Regions from separate parts of the Homo sapiens genome. Here regions 2, 3 and 4 are each linked to region 1. The links come from fine-mapping of genetic effects on gene expression. A gene starts in region 1. Each other region holds a variant in brackets. All regions are shown on one strand. Distances are from middle to middle. Region 1 holds the start of RBM23 (RNA binding motif protein 23). Region 2 overlaps OR6J1 (olfactory receptor family 6 subfamily J member 1). Region 3 holds the start of AP1G2 (adaptor related protein complex 1 subunit gamma 2). Region 4 overlaps AJUBA (ajuba LIM protein).

Region 1 (5,144 bases):
TCCCAAAGGGCTGGGATTACAGACATGAGCCACCGAGCCCGGCCTAAAAAGAAAAGTTTTTTATACTCAAGCTGTTTCAGTCATTTTTGCTGCCAAGTCTACACAAATTTTCTGTTATGAACTATTTTTTACAATCTGCTTTTTCCCCTCCAAATGAAATGCTTGATTTCAAGAACTGCTCATTGTTGAGTGCTAATGCGGGGTAAGAACAACTTAACACACACACTAAAACTTACACTTAAGTTTACAAGCCTCTACAAATAAACCTCTACGTAAAAAGTTTTCACTCAGAAACAAATATATCCGTTTAAGCAAAGCCATATACAACACAATATTTTGAAACTTGCAATCTCACTGGGTTTAGTGTCTTTCTAGATGTGCTAAAAGCAATAAGGTAGCAAACACTATGCATTTTCAGGCTGGTAGTTTTTTCTTTTTTCTTCTTTTTTGTTTTTTTTTTGTATTTTTAGTAGAGACGGGGTTTCGCCGTGTTAGCCAGGATGGTCGCGATCTCCTGACCTCGTGATCCGCCCGCCTCGGCCACCCAAAGTGCTGGGATTACAGGCGTGAGCCACTGCACCCGGCCCAGGTTGGTAGTTTTCAAACGCTCTCTTCATGTCCCAACTTATGGGTCAAGGTCCACTCAATCTCATCCACATAGAGTATGTTTTCTTCCATCCTGCTCCAAAAACAGTATTAGAGACCCACAATCACGTCAGTTCCTAGACCTCGTCATAGCACAAGCCAACAGATAGACCCCACTGCTAAAGGAGCAGAGAGAACCACTGTCAGACCAATTCGGGAAGAATTCACGAAAAGCTGGAGCCCCAGGGGTGATGGTAGCGCCATCCCCAGGGTCTGATCACTTAGCTGGGCACAAACACCTACAAACTGAAGGCAGCTTAACAAAAGAGGAACAATGAGAACGATAAAAGCTACTTGAAGGACCACCCTCCCCATGTTGTGTAGCTTTAAAAAATGGTCCTATAGGCCGGGCGCGGTGGCTCACGCCTGTAATCCCAGCACTTTGGGAGGCCGAGGCGGGTGGATCACCTGAGGTCAGGAGTTCGAGGTCAGCCTGGCTAACATGGCAAAACCCCATCTCTATTAAAAATACAAAAATTAGCCGGGCGTTGTGGCAGGCGCCTGTAATCCCAGCTACTCGGGAGGCTGAGGCAGGGGAATCGCTAGAACCCGGGAGACAGGATGCAGTGAGCCGAGATCGCGCCACTCCACTCCAGCCTGGGTGACAAAGCGACACTCCGCCTTAAAAAAATAAAAAAAAAGAGGTCCTATAGGCAACCAACTGGCACAATCTCTGCGGGAGCCAGTGTCCCAGGGCTCAATCTTCATATGTGGCATCATAATACGCCTACTGGAATGAGTGCTTGAAAAAGTTAAATGGGAAAAGCCCATAAAGGTCAACATAGTGAACATGAATCTTCGACAGACTAGAGATTGAGGAAGAAAGCTCAATTCCCTTCTCTCTCTCTGAATGGTGGTGCGAGTGGCTGAAACTGATGATGCGTGTCCTCTCAGGCCGCGGAGGGTCGATGCTCCCTCTCCAGTGTGGGCGACCCTAAGTGTCACGGCTGCAGAGACCCGGAAAGAAAAATCACAGGATTCTAGAAACCGCATCTTTATCGGTGCAAGATACAGCCACGAGGGTGCCCAACTCTAAAATCGTGGCAGTGGGCTACATTTAAGTAGCTAACACTTCCAGGTCAAAACAAACAAAGGTTTTTTTAATGTTAAAAGTTCGCCTGAATCTCTTCGTGACGCCATTTTCTGCCCGTGACGTCAGGGGGGAGGCGCCGTGCAGCAACGTCACGCATTGGTGACGTCTGGTGGGGACCGGGTTTTGGGGTTTCTCACCAGTTCCGGGTCCCCGCAGGGGGGTCCCGGTTCTCTCCGTTCCTTTGAGTATGTTGTGGGGAGTGGAGCTCGGATAGTTCCTAGAGTCTAGGCAAGAAAAGCAGCACTGCAGGTACAGAGCCTCCTCTTCCCGCAAAATGGCGGCAGCTCTGCCGTCTTCCAGAACCTTCCCCAATCTGCGCATGCGCCAAGACTCCCCGGCTTTGGAAATAACCTCACTGGTTTCGCGGCAACCGTCCAAAGTACAGGTTCTCATTGGCTAAAGTCCTAAGTATGGGTGGAGCAAACTCAAATGCGTCTTAGCAACCACCGAGTTCCCATTGATTGGCTAACCTCAGAGACTCCAGAAAATGGAAGCGTCCTTTGGTAGCCGCCCATCACTCTCTCATTGGTTAAATGACTTGCGGAGGGCGGGGAAAACGGGACTGAAAACGGGAGTGAAGAAGCCACCAACCCCACTCCTGGTGCTCGCGTAGACTAGACCAGTGCGATGGGCGGAGCCAACGAGGAGGCACAATTTACATCCTTGGCCGTCCCTACTCGGATTTGCTGAAGGAGTCACGTCGGTCGTTAAGGTTAAGCTTTGTAGAGAACAGCGGCGTTTGTTTAACGTCCGGGGATGCTGAACTCGAAATCCCCGTTCTGAGCCGGCTACCTAAACAACCTTCCCGACCACCTCTCCTGACCTCGGTGCTTGGGACCAGGGAAAAGCAGATCTTGCCACAGACTTGTCTTGGCCCACACTCTGCCCTATCGTCATGGCCTGCTCCCACAGGTCATAACTTCCGTTCAAATCAGTACCCCCACATTTCCCACTGCAAGGGTAAATTTGAAAGTTTCTCAGGTGACTCCTTGGATGTAGCAGTACTGAGTCCTCTAACCGGAAAGAAGGAACTGATGTCCACCCTCACTTTCCAGGGGCCTCCAGGAGCCCCTAGACACTTCTGTGGTCTACTGTAGCTACCAAAAATGTAGCTGGTTATAACATGGGGAGAGCCAGAGTCGGAGGACCTGACTTCCAATTCTGACTTGGATACTAATATCACATCATTGTACCCATTTCAAACTCCCCCTCTGTAAAATGGAAAATTGGACTAGATGATCTCTTAGGACTTCAAACTGTAACCCTGTGGTTTTATTCAAAAAAAACAGGTAGCTTCTTGCTGGAGATTCCTGGATGGATTCCAGTCTTCCCAAGAGGTAACAAAGGAGAGGTAACCAGTTGCCCGTGCAGTAGCTCAAGAATACAGAAGAGAAACTGGCTTCACTCACTATTCCATCTTTTTCCAAGGTGGCAAACTCTATGCCTCCTCCCCAGAGAAAAGCCTAACTGTAGGTTCTAATGGACAAGAGCTCACTGTAGCTGGTCAGAAAGGCCTATATCCAGGACTACAATAGTCATTGCTCAGCTTCCTAAGTAGGGAATACAACTAGGCCCCTTTGGGTCTTGGATAGGCTAAGAGGACAGATCTGAACATGCCTGGGTCTAAGTGAGGTGTGGGAAAATAGTGGCAGGGGGCAGCATGGTCGTGCAGTAAAGGGCTATAACTTTATTTGTATTTCCTCTTACACAAAACCATCAAAACAAGAACAGAAAAAGGCTGAAAATCCGTTCAAACCCCATGTTCTCAGGGATATTCCAGGGAGTTCTTGAGGCTGAGTGCGTAGCTTCAAATCCAGCACTAATTCCTCACCCCCTGGCCTGAGGTCTTCATAGATTGGTGGCTTGAGCCCTGCAATTAATTATAATCCCTTGCCCACCTTGATGTAAGGCAGGAAAGCAGATTGAAATGCTCCTCTCTGATGGGCAAGGGGAATCACAGCCCATAGATGTACTGCACCTTCTGTACTACAGGAGCAGAACCTGAAGCTGCTTCCAAGGCTCTGGACACTTGGCACGCAGGGCTAGAGGCCAATGGTATATGAGCGGCCTGTGGGGTTATGAATAGCAGAACAGACTGGTGCTGTCACAGCCCACTCATACCACACCTTCTTGGAATTGCTGCATCGCCAGAAACGCACACAGATGGTTTGGCCTTCACGTACCGTTATGGGCTGCTGTAAGAAGAAAGACAGGAAGGTTCAGGGTGAAGCTATGAATTATACATGGCAATGTATTAAGGTAGGTGTGGAGATAAAATGATAAACATGACAAGACTGTCCCAACCCTCATGAAAGTTATTTGAAGCCTATCAGAACACAAATAATCAAAGGTGTGGTGAGAGCTGTGAACATGTACAGAGTCAGAAAAACACCTATGAAAGGGAACACTAACCTAGTCTAGGAGATCAGAGAAAGTTTATCTCACAATAAAAATGTTTAAAGAAGACCTAGAAGATAGGTTAACTGTGTGAAGAGACAAGCAAAGAACTCTACAGGCAAGAGAAAGGCATGAAAGCCTGAGGTAGGAAAGAAGATAGACAATTAGAACAAAAAGAAGGTCCATAAGGCTGAAGCAGTGTAAGCAAGGGGACAGTAGCTGCAAAGGCAAGCAAACACTCGATCACATCAAGTCTTACAAGCAATGTCCCAGATTTTGACTTTTATCCTAAAGACAATGGGAAGGCATTGAAGAGTTTTAAGCAAAAAAGAGAGATAAGATCAGGCCAGGCGCGGTGGCTCACGCCTGTAATCCCAGCACTTTGGGAGGCTGAGGTGGGCGGATCATGAGGTCAGGAGATCGAGACCATCCTGGCTAACACGGTAAAACCCCGTCTCTACTAAAAATACAAGAATTAGCCGGGTGTGGTGGCTGGCACCTGTAATCTCAGCCTCAGGGAGGCTGAGGCAGGAGAATGGCATGAACCCGGGAGGCGGAGCTTGCAGTGAGCCGAAATTGTGCCACTGCACTCCAGCCTGGGCGACAGAGTGAGACTCCGTCTCTTTAAAAAAAAAAAAAAAAAAAAGACAGCAAGAGAGATAAGATCAAATTTGAGTTTTTAAAAGATGACTCTTGCTCAAAGTAGAGAACAGACAGAAGAGTAGCCAGAGTAGATGCGGGAAAGCCAGGCAGAAGGCCACTCCAAATACTCCCAACACCTACCACTGGGATCCAAGAGCATATGAAATCAGGAGAACATGAGTCATAGTCAACTATCTTCCTGGGAGAAGGAAAGAAGCACAACACCAAAGGCAAAGGTTACTGCTTAACTAGAGAGTCTTAAAAGCAGTTCCTACCTTAATAGGGAAGAGGATGGGAAACCATGAGAACATCCCAGGAGAGTGAGTCTCTGGACGGATACCTGTGTGGACAAAATAATGAAAAAACA
Region 2 (5,144 bases), 280 kb before region 1:
GAGGTGGGGGGGTCAGCCCCCCGCCCGGCCAGCTGCCCCGTCCGGGAGGGAGGTGGGGGGGGTCAGCCCCCCGCCCGACCAGCCGCCCCGTCCGGGAGGGAGGTGGGGGGATCAGCCCCCCGCCTGGCCAGCCGCCCCGTTCGGGAGGTGAGGGGCGCCTCTGCCCGGCCGCCCCTACTGGGAAGTGAGGAGCCCCTCTGCCCGGCCAGCCGCCCCGTCCGGGAGGGAGGCGGGGGGGGTGGGGTCGGCCAGCCGCCCTGTCCGGGAGGGAGGTGGGGGGGTCAGCCCCCGCCCGGCCGGCCGCCCCGTCCGGGAGGTGAGGGAGGCCTCTGCCCGGCCGCCCCTACTGGGAAGTGAGGAGCCCCTCTGCCTGGCCAGCCGCCCCGTCCGGGAGGATGGTGGGGGGGTCAGCCCCCCGCCTGGCCAGCCGCCCCATCCGGGAGGTGAGGGGCGCTTCTGCCCGGCCGCCCCTACTGGGAAGTGAGGAGCCCCTCTGCCCGGCCACGACCCCGTCTGGGAGGTGTGCCCAGCGGCTCATTGGGGATGGGCCATGATGACAATGGCGGTTTTGTGGAATAGAAAGGCGGGAAGGGTGGGGAAAAAATTGAGAAATCAGATGGTTGCCGGGTCTGTGTGGATAGAAGTAGACATGGGAGACTTTTCATTTTGTTCTGTACTAAGAAAAATTCCTCTGCCTTGGGATCCTGTTGATCTGTGACCTTATCCCCAACCCTGTGCTCTCTGAAACATGTGCTGTGTCCACTCAGGGTTAAATGGATTAAGGGCGGTGCAAGATGTGCTTTGTTAAACAGATGCTTGAAGGCAGCATGCTCGTTAAGAGTCATCACCACTCCCTAATCTTAAGTACCCAGGGACACAAACACTGCGGAAGGCCGCAGGGTCCTCTGCCTAGGAAAACCAGAGACCTTTGTTCACTTGTTTATCTGCTGACCTTCCCTCCACTATTGTCCTATGACCCTGCCAAATCCCCCTCTGCGAGAAACACCCAAGAATGATCAATAAAAAAAATAAAAATAAAAAAAAAATAAAAAAAATTAAGACACTAGCAAGATACCATTTTATACCCACTATATTGTCAAGAAGCAAAAATATGACAATAACAAGTGTTGACGAGGATGTGGAGACTTAAAAAATTTACACTGCTAGGTGAGGAGCCCCTCTGCCTGGCTGCCCAGTCTGGAAAGTGAGGAGCGTCTCCGCCCGGCCGCCATCCCATCTAGGAAGTGAGGAGCGCCTCTTCCCAGCCGCCATCACATCTAGGAAGTGAGGAGCGTCTCTGCCCGGCCGCCCATCGTCTGAGATGTGGGGAGCGCCTCTGCCCCGCCGCCCCATCTGGGATGTGAGGAGCGCCTCTGCCCGGCCGAGACCCCGTCTGGGAGGTGAGGAGCGTCTCTGCCCGGCCGCCCCGTCTGAGAAGTGAGGAGACCCTCTGCCTGGCAACCACCCCATCTGAGAAGTGAGGAGCCCCTCCGCCCGGCAGCTGCCCCGTCTGAGAAGTGAGGAGCCTCTCCGCCCGGCAGCCACCCCATCTGGGAAGTGAGGAGCGTCTCCGCCCGGCAGCCACCCCGTCCGGGAGGGAGGTGGTGGGGGGTCAGCCCCCCGCCAGGCCAGCCGCCCCGTCCGGGAGGTGAGGGGCGCCTCTGCCCGGCCGCCCCTACTGGGAAGTGAGGAGCCCCTCTGCCCGGCCAGCCACCCCGTCCGGGAGGGAGATGGGGGGGTCAGCCCCCCGCCCGGCCAGCCGCCCCGTCCGGGAGGTGAGGGGCGCCTCTGCCCGGCCGCCCCTACTGGGAAGTGAGGAGCCCCTCTGCCCGGCCACCACCCCGTCTGGGAGGTGTGCCCAACAGCTCATTGAGAACGGGTCAGGATGACAATGGCGGCTTTGTGGAATAGAAAGGCGGGAAAGGTGGGGAAAAGATTGAGAAATCGGATGGTTGCCGTGTCTGTGTAGAAGGAAGTAGACATGGGAGACTTTTCATTTTGTTCTGTACTAAGAAAAATTCCTCTGCCTTGGGATCCTGTTGATCTGTGACCTTACCCCCAACCCGGTGCTCTCTGAAACATGTGCTGTGTCCACTCAGGGTTAAATGGATTAAGGGCGGTGCAAGATGTGCTTTGTTAAACAGATGCTTGAAGGCAGCA[T/C]GCTCCTTAAGAGTCATCACCACTCCCTAATCTCAAGTAATCAGGGACACAAACACTGCGGAAGGCCGCAGGGTCCTCTGCCTAGGAAAACCAGAGACCTTTGTTCACTTGTTTATCTGCTGACCTTCCCTCCACTATTGTCCCATGACCCTGCCAAATCCTCCTCTGTGAGAAACACCCAAGAATTATCAATAAAAAAATAAATTTAAAAAAAAAAAAAATTTACACTGCTAGTGGGAGCATAAATTTATATAATTGCTTTGGAAAATAATTTGTCATTACCTTGTAAAGATGAACATTCACATACTCTGTGACCCAATAATTCTACTCCTAGGTAGAGAAACTTGCACATATGCCCCAGGAGACAAACAAGAATATGTATAGGGAAGGGGGAGAGGGGGAGGGAGGGAAAAGAGAGAGGGAGGGAGGGAGGGAGGGAGGGAAGGAAGGATGGAAGGAAGGAAGGAAGCAAGGAAGGAAGGAAGGAAGGAAGGAAGGAAAGGGGGAAGGGAGGGGAGGAGAGGGGAGGAGAGGAGAGGAGGGTAGAGGGGATGGGAGGAAAGGAGGAAGGAAGGGGGAAAAAAGAGAAGGAGGGAACAGTGTCCAAAGACAGGAGAATAAATCATGATATGCTCACAGAGTTGAATATACAATAAAGAAATGAATAAACTTCAGCTCAACCAACAGTGAGAATGTATTTTTTTTTTTTTTTTTTTTTTGGAGACAAAGTCTTACTCTGTCACCCAGGCTGGAGTGCAGTAGTGGTAGCATACAGCCCACTTCAGACTCAGCCTCCCTGGATCAAGTGATCCTCCCACCTCAGCCTCCCAAGAATCTGGGATCACAGGTGCATGCCACCATGCCCAGCTATTAGGTTGTTGCAAAAGTAATTGCGGTTTTGCCATTACTTTTCGTAGCTATGGGATCTCACTATGTTGCCCAGGCTGGTCTCAAACTCCTGGGCTCAAGCGATTCTCCTGCCTCTACTTCCCAAAGTGTTGGGATCATAGGCATGAGCCACCACACCCAGCCTCTTCTTGATATTTTCAGTATTTTTTTTTACAATGAACAAATATTCCTTTTATATAAAAGAAGTTAAGCTGGGCATGGTGGCTAACGCGTGTAATCCCAGCACTATGGAAGGCCGAGGTGGGAGGATGACTTAAGGTCAGGAGTTTGAGACTAGCCTGGGCAACATGGTGAAACTCTGCCTCTATGAAAAATACAAAAATTAGCCAGGCATGGTGCCATGCAGCTGTTGTCCCAGCTACTTGTGAAGCAAAGGTGGGAGAATCACCTGAGCCCAGGAGCTTCAGTGAGCCATGATCACACAGCACTGCACTCCAGCCTAGGTGACAGAGTGAGACTCTGAAGAAAGAAAGAGAGAGAGAGAGAAAGAGAGACAGAGAGGGAGAGAAAGATAAGAAAGAAAGAAAGAAAGAAAGAAAGAAAGAAAGAAAGAAAGAAAGAAAGAAAGAAAGGAAGGAAGGAAGAAAGAGAAGAAAGAGAGACAGAGAGGAAAGAGAGAGAGAGGAAGGAAGGAAGAAAGGAGGGAGGGAGGGAAGAAAGAAAGAAAGGGGGGAGAGAAGAAAGAAAGAGAGAGAGAGAGAAAGGAAGGATGGAAGGAAGGAAGAGAAAGAAAGAAAGAATGAAAGAGAGAGAAAGAAAGAAAGAAAGAAAAAGAAAGAAAGGAAGGAAGGAAGGAGGGAGGGAGGAAAGAAAGGAGGGAGGGAAGAAAGAAGGAAAGAAAGAAGGAAGGAAGAAATAAAGAAAAAGAAAAAAGAAAGAAGGAAAGAAAATTATTCTAAAAGGATATATATATATATACATAGTTGGATTGAAAATGTATATTAGCAAACACATATTGAGTGCCAACTATGTTGTGGGGCCTGCGATTGATGAAAGGTTGCAGAGATGGTAAAAAAAATTGCATGCCCTCGCACAGCTTTCAGTCTAAAAGAGATGTGAAGAAACCTGATTTCAGAAAAATCACAGAAACAGAGGAAAAATTAAGGGACGGCAAAGTTTTTTCATGGATATTTGTCCTGGGCCATTAGTCTGGAAAGCAAACCAACTACCAGGAAAACTGATAGATTCCAGGGACAAGGTCAAATAGGGCTTCTATACCTAGGAAGGACTCTGGATAGCAGAGGCCACGTAATTACCAGTGACTAAGAAGAATATGGATTGGACTAGGAAAAACAAGAATAATCTAGTAAAGGAAGAGGACTGCAGAAATCCCGAGGACTGAGTTGACCTCTGCCCATCTAAGCTGAGTCAGAACATCAGCCACTCCTGCACAGAACCTGTCCTCACGACCTGCCCTACCTTCCTATAGCCTTGGCACATGGACAGTCTCTCCAGACAACTCACCACATTTGCATTGCCAAGGATCTTTTCTTTCTTAACAGCTTTATTGATATATAACTCAAGTACCATACATTCCACCCATTTAAAATATACAATTCAATAGCTTTTAGTGTATTCACAAAACTGTGTGTCCATCACCACAATCAACTTAAGAATATATATATATATATATATATATATATATATATATATATATTTGAGATGGAGTCTCGCTCTGTCACCCAGGCTGGAGTGCAGTGGCACGAGCTCAGCTCACTGCAACCTCCACCTCCAGGGTTCAAGCGATTCTCCTGCCTCAGCCTCCTGAGTAAGCTGGGATTACAGGCGTGTGCCACCATGCCCAGCTAATTTTTGTATTTGTAGTAGAGATGAGGTTTCACCGTGTTGGTCAGGCTGGTCTCCAACTCCTGACCTCATGATCTTCCCGCCTTGACCTCCCAAAGTGCTGGGATTACAGGGACAAGCCACCATGCCTGGCAGATTTAAGGATATTTTAATGATCCCTCCTCCATTCCCTGGAAACTATTTTTCTACTTTCTGACTATGGATTTGCCTATTCTGGACATTTCATATAAATGAATCATACCATATGTGGTCCTTTGTATCTAGCTTCT
Region 3 (5,144 bases), 650 kb after region 1:
CTCCTGGCAGGAGAAAGAGGTTTCCATGCAGGTAGCCCAGGTCATCCTGGTCCATGCCTCAGGCCCTCTGCTTCCCCAGGGACCTGTCCCCCTTAGTCCCCTTACTCCAGCTGCTCTAAACTGGCTCGAGTCTTGGCCACAGGGCACTGGGAACCTCTGCCCTGCCCTCCTGTCCCCTCTATCACTGCTCACCGGCTGAGGGAGGCATCAGTTTCCCGTAGACATTCCACCACAGTGGGCCGATGCCGCTGCACAGCACTGTGATCAGACTGCACCAGTCGAAGCAGTGATGTCAGGGCTACATACCTGGTCAGGATGGGGGAGGTTCTATCATACCATGGCCATCAGCCCCCACTCCCCGTCCTGTCCTGGGTATAGGGATAAGATAAGAGAGAAATGGATCAGGAGGCTCTGGAGGAAGGAGGGCAGAGGGCCAGGGGATCAGTGGCACAGCCTAGGTAGACAGTTGGGACTATTACCTAATGTTCCTGTCACTGTTGAGTAGGAAGCGACCAAGAATGTTGACAGCTAGAACCTATGAGAGGCAGAAGTTGGGGTCAGTCGGAAAGGAGCAACCTGCTCAGCCATTGAGGACTGGGAACACATTGGCGCAAGATGATGGGGCTAGGAGGGAGAAACCAGCAAGCAGGACCTGTGTGGGTGAGGTGGTGGGCGGGGCCGTAGTGGGAGAGGCATAAGGGGTGATACCCGTAGGCCAGCTGCAGAGCGGATATCCATGATGGTGAGTACTGTCTCAAACAGGACCGCATTTCCGGCATTTCGGCTGGTGTCCGTGTTAGTGGCCACCTGAGTGGATGAGAGAGGAGATGTATCTGCTCAAGGCCCTCCTCAGGTCTCCTTTTTTTGATACAGGGTCTCACTCTGTCGCCCAAAGCTCACTGCAGCCTTGACCTCCCAGGCTCTGATGATCCTCCTGCCTCAGCCTCCTGAGTGGCTGGGACTACAGGCACATGCCAACAAGCCCAGGTAATCCTCAGGATTCTTGAAGGACTCCAACATGTTATCTGTCCATCCTTCAACCATCCAACAAAGTTCCCTGAGGCTCTACTATGTGCCAGGGCCAGCCTGGGCACTGGGGCAATAGCACTAAGACAGACTGTGTCCCTTCTTCATGGAGTTCACTGTCTAGAGGAGATGGAGAGGCAATTACACGGCCACTGCACAGTGACGAGTCATGTGAGGGGCACCCAGGGCTGATGGGGTCTCCAAGCAACACAGCTAACCAGTGCCCTCCCAGGCCCCACCTGGGCCAGCAAGTCATTCATGGTCTCACTGCTCTCCTCGTGGTTCCGGCCCAGGATCCGAAGCAGACGAAGTATCTGGACCTGAGGTTGGGTTGAAAATGGAAAGTTGGAGGGGTTCATAGGATAAGGAGTCGTGGGGCTGAGGAGAAAACTCCAACATGTGAGGGTCTGGCTCGCTCCCTAGAGCCTTCCCCCACCTCCTCACCTCCACAGGTCCCTTGGTCCTAGGAGGGGAACAGAGGTGTGTGAGGCCAGGGGAGTTTAGGACAGGCTTAAAAAAAAAATTGTTAACAAACTGTATTTTCCTGACTTTTAGGCATTCCCTCTCCCCTCACAGGTCCTGGGATGACCCGAGCAATCCTGTGCCTGCTACTCTGCTGCCCAGGACACTGAGAGAACCAGTGTTCTCTGGGAGGAAACCACTGGTCATGGTCTTACTGCTATGCCCTCTCTGATCCAGGGATACAGCAGTGAAAGGTCACCCCACCTGCAGGAAGGGGTCGCTGACTCCAGATATGCTGTGTTCTGTGGAGTATCCCATTGTCACCAGAGTCCGGAGGATGTGTACCAGCTGGGGTACCACCTGGAGGGAGGGCACAACTTTGGGCATTCGTTCTAATCCTCTCCAGCTAAAGCCCCATTCCTTCCCCACTGACCCTGTCTTCCAGGCCCAGGGCCTGCCCCTTCACCAGCCCACCTTTCGGAAGTGCCTGAGGGCTGCAGGGCTTCGTTCGCAGAGCTCCGTGATCAG[C/T]GTGATGGTGCCCAGCAGGATGCCTGGGGTCAGCGTCGGGGAAGTGAATGGTGGGGGCCAGGGGCAAGAGAGTCTATTGCGTGTGTGCCTGTGTGTGTGCACTACCCTTCTCCTGTGAGCTGGGGTTCCCATCCGATTTTCAATTCTTCTGTCCATAGACCTGAAGCAAAGGATGGGGGGCCCCACAGCCTTACCATGGTGACGCTCATGAAGCAGTTGGGCACAGGGTGGGAGGAAGACACTGGAGAGTTCAGGGACCTTCCGGATCATGTGCACTGCAGTCAGAATAGCCTGCAGAGGTCAGGGGCCTCAGACAGGGGTCAGAGGAGATGGACCCCTGCATCTACTACTATATAGCACGCAGCAGGCAGTGTGCAGGAGCACGTGCCAGGAGTCCCGCCATCTCACCTTCTTGCGCACGTAGGGACTGGGCTGCAGGAGCAGTTTCTCCACCTCTGGGGCCAGGTCTCGGCACATCTCAGCAGAGCCCATGGTGCTCAAAGTGCACAAGGCCAGGCCTTGTACTGGCTGAATCCCCTGGCTCAGGTCACTGCAGGGTTTGGGAGGACGGTCAGTCAAACCTCTGAGAAAATCAGTCCTTTTCAATACCCACAACAGGCAGTCCCCTGGGATTTCCAAGGTCCCTACTCTCCCATCTCCCTGATTCCAAGTGATTGCCAGAACCCTCTCACTTCTTGATGCTGTTGGTAATGAGCAGGTGGGCATCGTGCCTCTCATCCAATAGAAGCATGGCCCCCAGGTAGCCCACCCTCTTGTCTGTGAATCTGGAGGAGGCGATCAGTTTCAGGCACTCCATCTATAGTGAAGGGGGCAGACCAGGAAGAGGCAGGGGTGAAACCATAGACACTCACATCCCTGTTCCATCTTCCTCTTTAAAACCAGATTAACCTGTGGGGCATCATATCTCATCACTCTCCCTTCAACAAGAGGAGAAGCTTAGGAAATTCAGGCGTTAGTGGGTAGGAGGAACTAGGAGTTGAGGAGGATGGGAGCGGAGAGGAGGAGATGCCTGCCCTAAAGGAGGCTGGCCAGAGAATGAAGGGTTCAGGCCAGCTGATGACCAGTAGGGGTAGCAATGGGGAAAGAGGTTTGCAGTGCAGGCTGTGAAGACTCTGAAATTGTAGAATTTAAAAAACCAGGGCATAAACAGGTGAGAGAGTCTGGGACTCTGCCCCACTAGCCTTCATCAAGCTCAGGAGGGAGGTATTCCTGGCCAGTACCTGTCCAAAGTGGGCGGGGTAGCCCAACATGTGGACGTAGAGCAGTTTGGCCAGCTGCCGGTGCCTGTGCACTGGGTCCCCGTCGCGGAAGGAGGCCCGGATGTGGGCACACTCCTTTTGGATCACCTCCCGCTCCTGGGCCTGAGTCTTGGCCCCGCGAATCTCTTCGATGAGGTCCTGAAGCTTCAGCGAAGGCACCACCATCCTGACTGGCAGAGTCCGGGAGTGGAGAAACACTCTCTGGTCGGGCGTGCCTGGGCTTTCGGCCCAGGCCCGTCCTGTGTCAAGACCCTAAGAGCCCGGGTCCCACAGGTACCCTAAAATTGCGCCCGCATTTTACCTTTCCCGAAGTGGGTCTCCAAATTCCGCGCCCACCCCACCGCCCGAGAAGCCCACTACGCATGCGTCCGCACCCCACCGGCGCCCCTTCCTATTGAGCATGCGCGGGAGCCCCACCTATTTCTCTCTACCGTTTCCTCCCCCTACCTGGTACCCCATCCCTAGCTCAGCCATTGCTTTTTTTTCCACGACCCTCCGCTGTTTCTTCCGCGAGCTTCCTCCCCCGATTTCCATCTCAGGCAGCGGCAGCGGCAGCGACAGCCTGCCTACCCCAGGACTCCAGCCTCACCTGGCTTCTGCCTCAACTCCGCTCCTCTGCCCCCCAGCGCTTCCTGGTACGGGGCCGAGCAGGGGTTGGTGCTCCGTGCGGTCCTTCCCTCTCCCCGCCTCCACCACGGGACCCCGCCCTCCTGGGCCGACTGCAGAGCCTTCCTGAATCCTCTGACCTCGGGCCTCAGGCTTTAGCGGAGAGACAGCATGATAGGCCTGGAGTTCTTCAAGAGGCCTCCTCGCACATCCTTACCACCCGGAGAGCCTCAGTTTGGATTTGAAGCCATCGCACCCCAAAGGAGATGACAATCCCCCCCCTTTTTTGAACTTTTTTATTAATATATTTTTTTTGTTAAATTTCTTTGTATTTTTTTCCTGCAAGACTTGGTGTTGGCGGCACTGTTGTAGTTTAACTTCAATCCCAAATTCCATGAAATAGAAATCAGAAGTAAAGGTTGAGAGGGGAGGAAGGAGGGAGGCAAGCCAAGGAATAAACAAGAGTTTGACTAGAAAAAAAGAAGAGGGTATGTGTGGTGGGCATTCCTGGGCAAGGCCATTCCTTGAGGGAGGGGGTTGGCAGGCAGCTTGCCTCTGCCTCATGCAGGGGAGGGAGGAAAGATCCCCTGGGGACCCTGCAGTCCCCTCTTCCTAGGGCTTCCTGCTCCCAGGGGAAAAACTAATACCAGAGAGGGATCAGCCACAACCTCAAACAGGGCTCTCCACCCACCTGTCACCCGGGTTTGACTCCCACCTCTGCCCTGCCTGGGAAGCATGTGAGATCAGCTATCTTTGATCCCCTCCTTCTGTTGTTTTCCCATTTCACAAGATTCTGATGTAAAGGGGGAAGGGATATAACCCATTTTGGGACTACTAAACTTGTCACAGCTTCTGCTTCCATGTGAGCTCCTGTTATCTTGTCTGGTCCTATCCCCCAGAAGTGCCTCCTCCCACCACAACTCCCAGAGTTGGGATGTGGGGGCCTTGCTCAAGTGCCTCTAACCCTCTGCAGTAGAAATGTCTTCTTCAGGCCCCTTAGGAATTTAATCAAAGGCCACAAGTGAGTCCAGACCAACCAAATAAACTATTATGGGGGAGACAGAAGGGTGGGAGAAGTCAGTGGCAAAGTCTGGGCAGGGTGGACTTGACTGCATTGGATATTCTCTGTTCCTTTACACGTTGCTCTTGGCATGGCATGCCACCAGAGGGGGCTGGAGGAGGGGCTGGCCGATGAGGAGAAAAAGAGGGAAATGCTGGGGAGTTACTCTACTTTTCACTTCC
Region 4 (5,144 bases), 51 kb after region 1:
ACAGGCACTCACCACCACGCCCGGCTAATTTTTTTGTATTTTTTAGTAGAGACAGGGTTTCACCGTGTTAGCCAGGATGGTCTTGATCTTCTGACCTCATGATCCACCCACCTCGGTCTCCCAAAGTGCTGGGATTACAGGTGTGAGCCACTGCGCCCGGCTTTTTTTTTTTTTTTTCTTTGAGACGGAGTCTCGCTCTGTCGCCCAGGCTGGAGTGCAGTGGCATGATCTCGGCTCACCGCAAGCTTCACCTCCCAGGTTCACGCCATTCTCCTGCCTCAGCCTCCCGAGTAGCTGGGATTACAGGCTCCCACTACCACGCCTGACTAATTTTTTGTGTTTTTAGTAGAGATAGCGTTTCACCATGTTGGCCAGGCTGGTCTCAAACTCCTGACCTCAGGTGTTCTACCTGCCTCAGCCTCCCAAAGTGCTGGGATTACAGATGTGAGCCACCGCGCCCGGCCACCAGCTTTATTTTTGATAACCCATTCAGGCCTGTGGTGAACAGGGCTGGCCAGAGCAAAGACTGAAGTCTGCAGTCAAAGCCTAACCCTTGTCCTGTGACTGTCATCTATAAAGACAGACTTGGTCCATAATTCCTCCATTTTCCCCCTTTCTGCATCTCAGCACTAGTAGTTGTTGATTAAATCAGGTGGCAAGTTGGCCAAACAAGCTCCACCTTTTGATGTATATTTGGCAGCACCTCACGAATCTTTCATCATCAACTGTAAATACTAAAAAACTGTAAATACTAAACAGAAATATTGAGGAGGATTAGTCTCCCAGCAAATAGGAAGAAGGGAAGCTCTTGTGATGCAGGGTACACCTGGGAGCCTGCCAGTGATGGTGCTGGGGTGGCTAGGACTGCTCTTTTTTCATGGCCTGCCCTTATCAGCTGTTATCATTTATTTTTCCTCAGGAAGAAGTAGCCTCAGTGGCAAGAACAGAGTCTTGGGGAGCCCCAAGGCTAGGACAATCAGCACAGACCTAGAAAGGAATGAGTCGGATCAGGAACAGAAGAGGCCAAAATCAGAGTAAGAAACAAAGGGTCAGGAGCTGGGCACAGAAGCTCATGCTTGTAATCCCAGTGACTTAGGAGGCCAAAGTGGGAGATCACTTGAGGCCAGAAATTCAAGACCAGCCTGGGCAACATAGTGAGATGCTGTCTCTAAAAAAAAATTTTTTAAACTTAGCCAGTCATGGTTGTGCACACCTGTAGTCCCAGCTACTTGGGAGGCTGAGGCGGGAGAATCGCTTGAACCCGGGAGGCAGAGATTGCAGTGAGCCATAATTGTGCCACTGCACTCCAGCCTGGGTGACAGAGTGAGACTCCCAACTCTTTTTTTTTTTTTTTTTTTTTGAGATGGAGGCTTGCTCTGTTGCCGAGGCTGGAGTGCACTGGCATGATCTCAGCTCACTGCAACCTCTGCCTCTCGGGTTCACGCCATTCTCCTGCCTCAGCCTCCCGAGTAGCTGGGACTACAGGAGCCCACCACCACGCCTGGCTAATTTTTTGTACTTTTAGTAGAGACGGGGTTTCACCGTGTTAGCCAGGATGGTCTCAATCTCCTGACCTCGTGATCTGCCTGCCACGGCCTCCCAAAGTACTGGGATTACAGGTGTGAGCCACCGCACCTGGCCTTTTTTTTTCTTTTTGAGATGGAGTCTTGCTCTGTTGCCCAGGCTGGAGTGCAGTGGCGCGATGGCTAACTGCAATCTCCGCCTCCCGGGTTCAAGCGATTCTCCTGCCTCAGCCTCCCAAGTAGCTGGGACTACAGGTGCACCCCACCATGCCTGGCTAATTTTTTTATTGTTAGTAGAGACGAGGTTTCATCATGTTGGCCAGGATGGTCTTGATCTCCTGACCTCATGATCCTCCCACCTCAGCCTCCCAAAGTGCTGGGATTACAGGGGTGAGCCACTGTGCCTGGGCAAGACTCCCAAC[T/A]CTTAAAAAAAAAAAAAAAAAAAAGAGGCAGGGCTCAGTGGCTGACAACTGTAATCCCAGCACTTTGGGAGGCCAAGGCAGGCGGATTACCTGAGGTCAGGAGTTTGAGATCACCCTGGCCAACATGGCAAAACCCTGTCTCTACTAAAAATACAAAAATTAGCCAGGTGTGGTGGCGCCGGCCTATAATCCCAGCTACTCAGGAGGCTGAGGCAGGAGAATCACTTGAACCCAGGAGACGGAGGTTGCAGTGAGCTGAGATTGCACCATTGCACTTCAGCCTGGGCAAGAGAGCGAGATTCTGTCAAAAAAAAAAACCCTGAGAGCCGGGCACAGTGGCTCATGCCTGTAATCCCAGCACTTTGGGAGGCCGAGACAGGCAGATCACAAGGTCAGGAGATCGAGACCAGCCTGGCTAACACAGTGAAACCCCGTCTCTACTAAAAATACAAAAATTAGCCGGGTGTGGTGGCGGGCGCCTGTAGTCCCAGCTACTTGGGAGGCTGAGGCAGGAGAATGGTGTGAATCCGGGAGGCGGAGCTTGCAGTGAGCCGAGATAGCGCCACTGCACTCCAGCCTGGGCGACAGAGTGAGACTCTGTCTCAAAAAAAAAAAAAAAAAAAAAAATATCCCTGAGGGGATGGATGTAAAGTTACACAAGCTTGTCTGGATTTCCCATCATAGGGCCTTTGTATTCACTTATTTAATAATAGTTCAGAAGAAGCTATCTCAGCTGTACAAGAAGTAATTCAGTTTCAGAACATTTCTCACTCCAACAAGGTGCATTTTCCCCTCTGGCGCTCAGTTGTATAAATCTGACCTCTTTCCCTCTCACTCAGAGATCTCTTTTATGTATTTCCCAGGTTGGCTGGCATAGTCACCTTAGAATAGCCCCCAAATGTGGAAATTCTGTTGTCAGGAGTCATCATTTCCAGTAAGAAACTCACTGAGTGACAGAAAATGAAGACTAAAGATCAAAGATTACTAAATTAATTTGCCTAAAACCAATTCACCTAAAACCAATTAGTCTAAAATAAATATTTATCAAATCTGCAGCATTTCAAAAGGATTTAGCAGATTCACCCTTTTAGTTATTACTGTTGTCTGTATAACTTTTCATTGTAAGTCAACTGAATATGCCTCATGCCTATTCATTTGTTTAAGATATACTGGCCTTTTTAACAGTAGGAATGTAGAAGTTAGACCAAAGCATCAAAATCACATTGAACTCCATTATATTTTTCAAGGCATTTAATTTGTAAAGGAATATTGGATTAAGAAACAAAAAAATGATACACAAAATGTCTGTACCAATTGTATTTATTGCTAGAAACTTTAAACTTTTTAAAAAAGTTTTTGAATGGTAGATAACATAGAAAAAGACATCCATAAAGGTAGGAAGCAATCTCATCATTTACAAAGTGCTGCAAATTTGATAAATTTATGTTGCTGATAATAGCTCAGAAGTACTCTTGGATGAATAGATATAAATCCTTGAAATATCCAAAGCATGACAAAAAAGAATAGGACACCTAAATGGATATAAACACACCAAAATAGGAATTGAGCTTTTGGCAAATTAGTCATTAAGTCATTAACTTTAAGCAAACAAGTTTTCAGTAAATTGGTTTTAAGAGATCTAGCTTTAGGTGAACTAGTTTCAAGCAAACTGACTAGTATCAAATCAGTGTTTTGCTCCCTCCAGTTCCCCCCAACTCTAGTTTTGGGATTGTGATGGATGCAATCCGGGACCCCTCTGAGAGGTGGCAAGTGAGCTTCTACTAGGAAACCAAGTGTACAAGTGACCTGAGAAGAGAGTAAGAAAGAGTGAGAGAGAGACAGAGAGACAAGAGAGAGAGTGTGTGTGTGCATGAACACACCCACACATGCATACACTGGGCTATATGGCTCAGTGCACCTAAACTTGGGAATGTGGCTAAGCTGAAGCTTCCTAGACATCCCCCCAACAAGCTCCACACCCACAGAGATCTGCTCATTACCTCCCCCAGCCAAGGAGAAGAGCAACCACGTACAATCACCTACCTAGCCTCCCCAGACCCATGTAAGTTCCTGAGAAACAGGGAATACAGGCAGCAACCCCACTCAGAGCTGGTCCCCATTCTCAGACAGATAAGGAGCTCTCCTAGTCCTTAGAAGAAGGCCAAGAAATAACTCATTAATGAGGTCCAGAGTTTCTACCTCTTCATCCAGATATAGGTGCGGGACCCCATATCTGACACCATGTGTCACAAAAAGTGAGGAGCTTAAATTTGGTTGCCTAGCAGGAACTCACCACCCTAGACTTGCTACCTCTCAGGGACATCCCACACTGCATCAACCACAACCCCAAAACTCTGGGGTTTGGGGGAGCTGGAGGGAGAATTACACTTTGATTTGGTTCTAGTCAGTTTAGCTGAAACTAATTGATTTAAAGCTAGGTCCTCTACTCCTGGAATCCAGGACCAGAACATTGCGTGACTCATGCATAATCATACACTAGGCCAGACACAGTGGCTTACGCCTATAATCCCAGCACTTTGGGAGGCCAAGGTGGGAGGATCATTCGAGCCCAGGAGTTCAAGACTAGCCTGGGCAACATGGTGAGATCCCATCTCTAAAACAAACAAAATATATATACTGAAGATACAGAATCAGATGTTCAGAAAGTCCTGGAACCCTCCTGTGTGTGCCTAAGCTCAGACTGCACACATGGGAAAAAGGCCAGTCGCCCCCACCCTGGTAAATATAAGGTTTCTCTTCCACAATCCATTTGGAATATCATGATCTTTGGGTCTCCGGCCCTTGGGGTCCTCCCCAGAGGACTCTTCTGCCAGGCCTGCAGAGTGCATTCTTTGCCTTGGCTGGCCTCAGAGGGGCCCACTGGCCACAGCAGTTTGTCTGCAGGGTGACAGCAGCAGCAGTGATTGCAGCTCAGATATAGTTGGCAGGGGGTTGTCGGGCATTGAGCCGCTGCATGTGGCAACCATGGCAGAGCAAGTGCCCATCCAGAGGGAAACAGCAGCAGCCTTCCTCATCACTCAGCTGCATCCGGCAGTCCTAGGGAAGAAGGCACCTAGTTCACCTCAGCCTAGGCACCTTGGACACTGAGGGTATCTTAGGAGTCTGCCCTGCTCAACACCTGACTCCTAATAACTGGAAGAAAGGGATGGGGTGGGAAGGGAAGGATGGAAGGGATGGA

Evidence for each region. PIP is the estimated chance that this variant, and not a neighbour inherited with it, causes the effect.
Region 2: its variant is fine-mapped to the expression of RBM23 in nucleus accumbens (GTEx, PIP above 0.99).
Region 3: its variant is fine-mapped to the expression of RBM23 in minor salivary gland (GTEx, PIP 0.98).
Region 4: its variant is fine-mapped to the expression of RBM23 in whole blood (INTERVAL, PIP above 0.99).

What each region holds. Positions count from the first base shown.
Region 1 is chr14:22,917,124-22,922,267 of GRCh38, forward strand. It overlaps RBM23 (RNA binding motif protein 23), which reads right to left and starts at 2,026. Exons shown (of 14, transcript NM_001077351.2): 1 at 1,876-2,026. It overlaps PRMT5 (protein arginine methyltransferase 5), which reads right to left. Exons shown (of 17, transcript NM_006109.5): 16 at 5,053-5,117; 17 at 3,406-3,933. The coding sequence ends at 3,781. PRMT5-AS1 (PRMT5 antisense RNA 1) reads left to right here and starts at 2,333. Exons shown (of 2, transcript NR_120600.1): 1 at 2,333-3,997. RefSeq lists enhancers at 78-842, 1,331-1,500, 1,571-1,680, 1,771-1,840 and a silencer at 2,101-2,400.
Region 2 is chr14:22,637,629-22,642,772 of GRCh38, forward strand. The region is part of intron 1 of OR6J1 (olfactory receptor family 6 subfamily J member 1); the gene reads right to left. Among named protein-coding and RNA genes, the nearest start is that of OR6J1, 4.2 kb to the right of the region's middle. The variant T/C (reference allele first, on the strand shown) is at 2,161.
Region 3 is chr14:23,563,854-23,568,997 of GRCh38, forward strand. It overlaps AP1G2 (adaptor related protein complex 1 subunit gamma 2), which reads right to left and starts at 3,938. Exons shown (of 22, transcript NM_003917.5): 1 at 3,886-3,938; 2 at 3,258-3,466; 3 at 2,709-2,833; 4 at 2,425-2,566; 5 at 2,211-2,307; 6 at 1,963-2,039; 7 at 1,753-1,848; 8 at 1,266-1,346; 9 at 709-807; 10 at 480-535; 11 at 193-306; 12 at 1-3. The coding sequence starts at 3,461. It overlaps JPH4 (junctophilin 4), which reads right to left. Exons shown (of 6, transcript NM_001146028.2): 6 at 4,185-5,144. It overlaps AP1G2-AS1 (AP1G2 antisense RNA 1), which reads left to right. Exons shown (of 4, transcript NR_110555.1): 2 at 874-987; 3 at 1,603-3,569; 4 at 3,836-4,223. RefSeq lists enhancers at 3,151-3,240, 3,271-3,510 and silencers at 3,991-4,040, 5,030-5,129. The variant C/T (reference allele first, on the strand shown) is at 2,017.
Region 4 is chr14:22,968,567-22,973,710 of GRCh38, forward strand. AJUBA (ajuba LIM protein) reads right to left here. Exons shown (of 8, transcript NM_032876.6): 8 at 2,611-5,002. The coding sequence ends at 4,877. Among named protein-coding and RNA genes, the nearest start is that of AJUBA, 11 kb to the right of the region's middle. The variant T/A (reference allele first, on the strand shown) is at 1,946.